2 separate regions of the Homo sapiens genome follow, and region 1 is linked to region 2. Evidence: fine-mapped expression QTL. A gene starts in region 2. The other region holds a variant in brackets. All regions are shown on one strand. Distances are between the middles of the regions. Region 1 overlaps RFC1 (replication factor C subunit 1). Region 2 holds the start of KLHL5 (kelch like family member 5).

The links. PIP is the estimated chance that this variant, and not a neighbour inherited with it, causes the effect. A credible set is the group of variants that fine-mapping cannot tell apart.
Region 1: its variant is the best candidate, but not a certain one, in a credible set for the expression of KLHL5 in whole blood (TOPMed, PIP 0.72).

The regions. Positions count from the first base shown.
Region 1 is chr4:39,344,685-39,349,087 of GRCh38, forward strand. RFC1 (replication factor C subunit 1) reads right to left here. Exons shown (of 25, transcript NM_002913.5): 3 at 717-792. Among named protein-coding and RNA genes, the nearest start is that of RFC1, 19 kb to the right of the region's middle. The variant A/T (reference allele first, on the strand shown) is at 1,926.
Region 2 is chr4:39,059,962-39,064,364 of GRCh38, forward strand. It overlaps KLHL5 (kelch like family member 5), which reads left to right and starts at 2,271. Exons shown (of 11, transcript NM_015990.5): 1 at 2,271-3,074. The coding sequence starts at 2,692.

The sequences.
Region 1 (4,403 bases), 280 kb after region 2:
CAAAGCGCAAGAATCGCTTGAACCTGGGAGGTAGAGGTTGCAGTGAGCCCAGATCGCACCACTGCACTCCAACCTGGGCAACAGGGCAAGACTGTCTCTAAATAAATTAATTAAATTAAATAAAAACACATATATCACATTCAAAATAAGTTTGACAAATGCTGCATACTATATCACTTTCTGAAGGAATCTTTAATACAAACATATTTTGGTTCTGATAAGTTCTATAATAAAATTGTTTGAAATTTTACTTGAGCATACAGCCCTCTTCTCACAGGACTTATTAACATCTCAGAGAGCTACGTATCTCAGAACATAGTTGATTTATTTATTTATAATTTTTTTGTTTTTTCTTGAGACAAAGTCTCACTACCCAGATTGGAGTGCAGTGGCGATCTTGGCTCACTGCAACCTCTGCCTCTGGGATTCAAGCAATTCTCATATCTCAGCCTCCTGAGTAGCTGGGATTGCAGGCGCGTGCCACCACGCCCAGCTAATTTTTGTATTTTTAACAGAGAAGGGGTTTCACCATGTTGGCCAGGCTGGTCTCGAACTCCTGACCTCAAGTCATCTGCCTGCCTTTGCCTCCCAAAGTGCTGCGATTGCGATTACAGGCATGAGCCACCGCACCCATCCTTAGAACATAGTTTAAAGCACTGTTCTAAGGGATATACAATAACTTTAAAATTTTAAAGCTCCTCAGAAGAAATTATTACCTGAATCATAGATGATCCTCTTTTTCTTGCTTGGTTGCTTTTGTTTGAAGTCATCCTCTTTACGGGAGCTATTTACCTATAAACATCACAATATAATTAGAACATAAAGAAGCCTATATAACTATCTTTTTTTTTTTTGAGACGGAGTCTCACTCTGTCATCCAGGCTGGAGCGCAGTGGCACGATCTCGGCTCACTGCAAGCTCCGCCTCCCAGGTTCACGCCATTCTCCTGCCTCAGCCTTCTGAGTAGCTGGGACCACAGAAACCCGCCACAATGCCTGGCTAATTTTTTGTATTTTTAGTAGAGACGGGGCTATCCTTTTTTCTCGTTAGATTTGGGCTCAGTCGTTTTAACCAGGGGGAATTTTGCATCCCCGCCCCCCAGAAGGCATTTGTCAATGTCTAGAAACATTTTTACTTATCACAAATGGGGGTAGGGAGGTTTACTGTCATGTAACAGGTAGATCAGGGATGCTACTAAACATCCTACAATGCACAGGACAGTCCTCCACAACAAAGAATTCTCCAGACTAAACTGTCAGTAATATACCCTTATTGGCTAAAAATAGGCCAGACAGTAACTGTACCACAATGGGAAAAAAATAATTACAGAAAACGCTATATTATTATTCAGCTCCATTTTCAACACTAACCTATGTATACAACAAAGAATAAAAGGATATCAGATATTACAAGGCAAGTGCTTCCTGAAAATGAAACGACAGAAACAGGAATAAATGCTAAGCTAGTGGCCTACCACTAGCCAATGCCTGTTAGGAAACTAAATAGAACCAGCCAGGCTCAGTGGCTCACGCCTGTAATCCCAACACTTTGGGAGGCCGAGGCGGGCAGATCACCTGAAGTCAGGAGTTCAAGACCAGCCTGACCAACATGAAGAAACTCCGTCTCTACTAAAAATACAAAATTAGCCAGGCGTGGTGGTACATGCCTGTAATCCCAGCTACTTGGGAGGCTGAGGCAGGAGAATCGCTTGAACCTGGGGGGCAGAGGTTGCAGTAAGCCAAGATCGCGCCATTGCATGCCAGCCTGGGCAACAAGAGCAAAATTCCGTCTCAAAAAAAAAAAAAAAGTACTAAATAAAACCAATGCAAAAGGTATTATTATATATTTTGTAGTTAAACATCACATTTCTAACATATTCAAATTTTCTCAGAAAGCATCAAGAAGGCAGTGAAAAAACTGATTGT[A/T]ATCAATTATAAGGTAGAAATAGAAACTATTTCTATCCATTATAATAAAACTTCAAAAACATAAGAACAATCAACTAGCTTGCAAGAAAATGGAACAAATGAGCAATTATAATTTATATATACCACTGGATCAAGGACAGAGTCAGAATCAACCACACCTCAAAAGTAAGAGAAGAAGGTATCAAGTAAAGGAGAAAGCCACAGAAAGAAATCCCAAATTCTGCCTGTAAACTTTACCCAAATCTCTGGCTATCTCCTGAATTATACATATGTGGAACAACTCCTATAGCTTAGCTAAGGTTAAAAGAATTGAATAAAGATTTCAGCTGCTGCCCATTACAGGGGAGACAAGAGTTTGGAGCTTGAGTACAGCCAAGATCAATGCCTGATAAACCAAAAGAACACTCTTTGAAGGAATAACAGGATCCAAAGTTCCTACACTGTATCGTTCACAATGTCCAAGATAAATCCAAAATAACTAGAACATGCAAAGAGGAAATGTGACCTGTGGAGGCTAATTTCATATGTGAACCTGACTGAACCACAAGATGTCCAGATATTTGGTCAAACATCATATTAGGTGTTTCTACAAGGGTGTTTTTGAATGAGCTTAATATTTAAATCAATTGACTAAGTAAAGCAGACTGCCCTCCCTAATGGCATTAAGCCTCATCTAATCAGCTGAAAGCCTGGAAAGAACAAAGGCCAACCCTCTGCTGAATGAGAGGGAATTCCTCCTGCCCGACTGCCTTAGAGCTGGGATATCTCTGGGACACTTTCTTCCTGCCGTTGGACTCCAACTAAAACATCAGCTCTACCAATTCTTGGTAATAAATCTCTCTATGTATACACACATACATCCTATTGGTTCTGTTTCTCTACAGAACTCTGACTGTATAATACAGATTTTGGTACCAAGAAATGGGATACTACTATAAAACAAACAAACAAACAAAAACAAAACAAAACCTAAAATACAGAAGTGACTTTGGAACTGGGGAGAGGCTAGATATTTTCTAGCATGTAGAAAAAGCCTAGACTGCCATGAAGGAACTGCTGGTAGAAATATGAACGTTAAATGTAATAACAATGAGAGCTGATGAAGAGAAGAGAAGAGCTAGAGAAGAAGCCTCTTTCATCTCAGAGAATACATATATCATCATGAACAGAATGTTGGTATAAATATGAATGTTAAAGGCCAACCTGGTAAGGTTTTACATGGAAATGAGAAAGAGATTATTGGAAATTGGAAGAAAGACAATTCTTATTATAAAGTGGCACAGAACTTGGCCAAGTTGTGTCCTAGTGCTTTGTGAAAGATGGAACCTGTGAATGATGAAATCAGATATTTAGCTGAGGAGATTTCAAAGCAAAATCTTGAAGATGCGGCCTGAGTCCTCCTGACTGCTTGTAGTCAAATGCAAAACGGAAGAGATGAACTAATGAAGAAACCGGTCAGCCAAAAGGGACCAGAACTTGAAGATTTGTAAAATTCTCAGCCTGTCCGTATTTCAGAAAATGAAAAAGCAAGTTCTAGGCCAGGTGTGGTGGCTCACGCCTGTAATCCCAGCATTGTGGGAGACAGGCCAATCACTTCAGGTCAGGAGTTTGAGACCAGCTTGGCCAATATGGTAAAACCCCATCTCTAGGAAAAATACAAAAAATTAGCTGGACATGGTGGCACGCGACTATAGTCCCAGCTACTCAGGAGGCTGAGGCAGGAGATTCACTTGAACCTGGGAGGCAGAGGTTGCAGTGAGCCGAGATTGCGCCACTGCACTCCAGTCTGGGCAACAGAGCAAGACTCTGTTTCAAAAAAGAAAAGAAAAGAAAAGAAAAGAAAAGAAAAGAAAAGAAAAGAAAAGAAAAGAAAAAGCATGTTCTAAAGAGAATAGCAACGGTGTAGCTGGAGTATCACTTGATAAAGAGATTATGGGATTATACAGGCAAAAACACTGTCAGTTTGAATTGAAGAGGATGGAGAAAGGACAAAATGAAAGAAGGCTGTCAGACTTCTGAGATTCCAGTGACAGGACAACACAGCTATTCTTCAAGAAAAGGGAAGAATGGCCCCAAAAGCAATTCAGAGATCAACCATCAGAACTCCCTCTTCAAAAGATGGAGCTTGGTTTCAACAGATGAGACAGCCACCACCCAAAGCCTTGTGGGCAGGATGGCCCAGCAGAGCTGCAGAAGCAGGACAGCTGCCTGTGACTGTGGGGGTAGGGCCACTAACCCAGTGGGTCTAGAGGGCAGGGCATCAAGCCAAAGAGTTTATTTTCAAGGCTTATGTTCTGATTGAATTTGCCTTGCTAGGTTTTGGACTTGTTTGGGATCCATCACCCCTCCCTCCCTTCTGATTTCTCCTCTTTGGAATGGTAATGTCTATCCTATATGTCTGTTCTACTATCATATTTTAGAAGCACATTCCTTATCTGGTTTCACAGGTTCACAGCAAAAGAAAATTTTCCCTCAGGA
Region 2 (4,403 bases):
CTGTAGATATAAAAGCCTCACAAGGATGTTTCTTTCAACATTATTTTAATGGCAAAAACCCAAAAACCTGAAATCAACCTGAATGCCCATTAGCAGGGAGATAGTTTAATAAATTGGTTTTTTTACAGTAATGAAATATCATGTAACTCTTAAAAAGATTATTAATTTATATTTCCATGTATATATAAAATTAGGTGAGAAGAGCAAAATGCTAAAAGATGAATACAATATGATCTCTTGTATAACAATAGCAAATCTCTTATATATGTGTATATAAGTTTGTCCATGATTTATAAACATGGAGAGAGGTGTGAAAGGCTATATGTACCAAGCTTGGCGTCAGCAATGATTACCATGGGAATGAGTGGAGGAGGATTGGCAAAATAAAGGTATCATTTTTCATTGCCAGATGTTTGCTGTCTCTGGCCCCTGCACACTCAATGCCTATAGCACTCTGGTCATTCCAACAACTAAAAATCTACCACCACCACCACCACCACCACCTATTTTCCAGAAGCCTTTAGGAGCAGGTTGATGCTTCCCTTGTTGAGAACCAGCTACTTAGAGTAACTGAAGTGTTTACAAAGATGATAGTGCCTGAGCTAAATCTTGAAGGATGAAGTGTGTTTTTTAAACCAGAGTTTCTCTGGGAGGCAAACAGTGTTATAAAAGAGGGAACACCATAATGTAGACTGCCTTGACCAATGAAGTGGTGTGTCTATGTTGGAAAATGGTTAGAAATAAAGTTGGATAGCTAGAGTGAAGTTAGAAGGATGTTGATCAGAAGGAGTCTGACAAAGGTGAGAGGAGAGGGGAAAGTGTCATTTCACTCTCTAATGCGTCCTGCACAGTACTGCCAAGTTAATTTCCTAAAACATTGTCCTGTTCAACAGTCCATTCAATAATGTCTTTGCTGCTTGCTCAAGGCATTTTATCTCATCGTATTCATCTAACTTTATCTCTTACTACACCTTAAAATTAATTTGGTATGGCTGGCTGATCAAACTGATTATTTCCCACTTCTTCCTTGTAGATATGCCCACTTCATGCTTTTATTAGAATCTTTTTCTGTAGAAATCTATCATTCTACCTAAACAATGTTTTACTATTCTTAGCAGCCTTCTCCCTAATGAAACTGGCCCATACCACTCCATTGCCATCCTGATATCTCCTTTCTTTCTTACAGTTTGTATGGTTTTTCCCGTATTATTTAGCATGAAATCATACTTGGCTTTTTATGCTTCTCATTCTTGTTTCTCTGAATAATTTGTATTAAGATAGACACCTCACAATATTTTTGTAAGCCTCCAAAGTAGTTTTTGTTTTTGTTTTTTGGTCAGCTTAGATAGGCATTGCCTTTTGTATGGAATTAGTTGATAAAGGAGTAAATACTGAGCACCCTGAAAACTCAAATTCTGCATTGATAGATCACACTTTAATATTGCAGCATTTTAATGTTTCTTATTTTACCTTATCAAATATTTTGTATTTGGTTCAATAGCTAGATTTAATTATTTTGGGGGTTAGGAACCAAGATATATATATCTCTGTGTCCCTGACAATGCCTAGTAGATTGCATTGTTCACAATAACTACTCAGTATTTTTGAGTTTATTTGTATTTGCTTTATCAATTTGCCTTAACTGTAACCATGTTCAAACCATTGTTTGTTTTGCTAACAACAGAGGGCACCATTAGGGCACTTGTACACCCAATAGTCCTATCCCAGTCCCTGGTAGCTTTTTTGAGCCGCACTTTTCCTTTTCCTAAGTAATGTCATAGAAATTTGGATGTTACACTAACTGGCAGTGGCCCATTTCTACTTATAGAGAAATCCTGGCCTCAGTTTATTTGAAAAAGAGTATTTGTTACATTTTGATCCTTTGTAGTTTTCAAACTTTTTATTCTCCTCATTATTCTTTATCCAAGTGAAATCTTACCCAGGATCTTACTGTATTAATTAGATCCATTTGTTTTCTGAAGGGAGAAGATAGAGGTGAAGGCAATAGTCTGGAGCCCCACCTTTGTACTCCGCTTTCCTCCTCATTCCCCATCCAAAGAGCACACCTGGAAAATCACCATAACTCATCTAATTTTACAAATGCTTTTTTAAAAACTTGTTTTGTGGTATTTCACTTAGGGACTTAGTTTAGAAATAGAAACATTTTAGTTTTAAAGTGATTATTTTTAAGTACAAAGGGAAATGCTATAGAATACATTTATTGTTTCAGCAATGAAAGAGTTAATATACTAAGCAGCAGAGACTGAGATACTGCAACGGGGATAGTGTTTTCTGTCTCTGTCATTTGTGGTTTAAGAAAAAGGGGGTGGTGTTCTGCATTTGAAAGGACTTTAATGAATGCTGTCAGTGTTTGTGAGACCTAATGGTCAGTATGGGAAAGGAGAGCCGGGAAAGTGGTCTAGCTGCTTCAGGATAGGTGGATGAGAGTTTGCTCTGATTGAACGGAATGTTCCACCGTGTTTCATCTTTATTCATTATCCTTTGTTCTTTAAAATCTGATATATTGGCATAAAAGTAATTGTAGATATATATATGAATGTGATTTATTTTCCTTTACATATTTTTGTTGTGTACAGCAGGGCATATACTTCTCTTGTCTTGGTTGGATGCACAAATCTGTGTGCAGTGCTTTTTGCCCGTTGCCTAGACGATCACTTGGTTTCTCTGAGGATGTCTGGTTCTCGTAAAGAGTTTGATGTGAAACAGATTTTGAAAATCAGATGGAGGTGGTTTGGTCATCAAGCATCATCTCCTAATTCTACAGTTGACAGCCAGCAGGGAGAATTTTGGAACCGAGGACAGACTGGAGCAAACGGTGGGAGAAAGTTTTTAGATCCATGTAGCCTACAATTGCCTTTGGCTTCAATTGGTTACCGAAGGTCCAGCCAACTGGATTTTCAGAATTCACCTTCTTGGCCAATGGCATCCACCTCTGAAGTCCCTGCATTTGAGTTTACAGCAGAAGATTGTGGCGGTGCACATTGGCTGGATAGACCAGAAGTGGATGATGGCACTAGTGAAGAAGAAAATGAATCTGATTCCAGTTCATGCAGGTTGATTATTTTCTTACTGTTAGAAAAGGGGTGTGGGGGTATGGCTCTATAATGTTTTTAAATAATTTAGTATTTATTATTTAAAATCTGATTATATATGTACATCTGCATACATATATATAATATCTTGGTATGAACATGTGATACTTCTGCTAGGGTTTTTTTAATGTTCTAATAGTCTGTAAAATTACAAAGACAACAAATAGCATTCATTTTGAAATATCTTGTGTTCTATATATAGATCTGGCTCAGCTTTGAAAATAATATATAGTAGCAATTTCATGTATCATTGCCTGTGGTTTGCTTCATTCATTAACCTTCTATATTCATATCAAAACTATAGAAGATATTTCTATAGTATGAAATTTTATGTGACATTTTAGTTTATAACAGATGATAGAGTCATTTTTTAATTTAATGAAAAGGAAAGGTTTTGCAAAGAGATGCACATTATAGTCACCAATTTTTTGACACAATTGTAGTTGTCAATAATATTTTTCTTATGGTTATTTCTCTTTGTCCTGTCTGTGTTACAGCTCTCCAGACTAATATAGAGAATACTAAGTAACATGTCTCTAAGATGACAGCTACTAATTCCTGTTACCTTCACTTTCACTGAAATGTGTGCTATTTAGGGAAATGAAGGACATTCCTCCAGGAGAGTTTAAGGGAATGTAGAGGGGCTAGATGTGATTATCTGGTGAAAAGGGGACAGGAAGAAGGGGAAATCAGTTAGAAGAAAGAAAATAAGGAAAAAAATAGGTAATTTCATAGTGACTTTATCTACCTTTATCTTGGAATCTGCCTTTATCTTTGAAATGGATTTTCTTATTCATCAGTTTAAACTACAATAAGATTATATAACAACTTAGAGCATGAAAGTCATCTTTCTGATTAATCTTCATTCGAAAATATTTCTAAATATTTAAAGGCACAAATAGCTTATCATTTGTCTAATTTGATTATTATATTTTTCTCTTAAAATTTCTGTGCAGCTTTTGATAACACTTGTAATTTGTAAGTTGGTTATTAATGATGTAGGTGTCATATGGATTGAGACAAAATGAATTTATATATTTAAGTGTCTCTTACTTGAGGATATTTACCACCTTTTCCTCTTCTAACCTTAAGAATGTGGACTTGGAAGGATAAAAAATGTTTACTCTAGTCATCTGTCATCTTCTGTGTAATGGAGAGAGGGGAATATCTGTATGTAGGTAAATAGTGTATTTAATTTAAATTTTTTTTAATTAGTTCATGACTTGGCATTATCTTAAGGGAATAGAAGCCACTAATTTAATTTGGAGATCAATTGAGCTAATGTGGTTC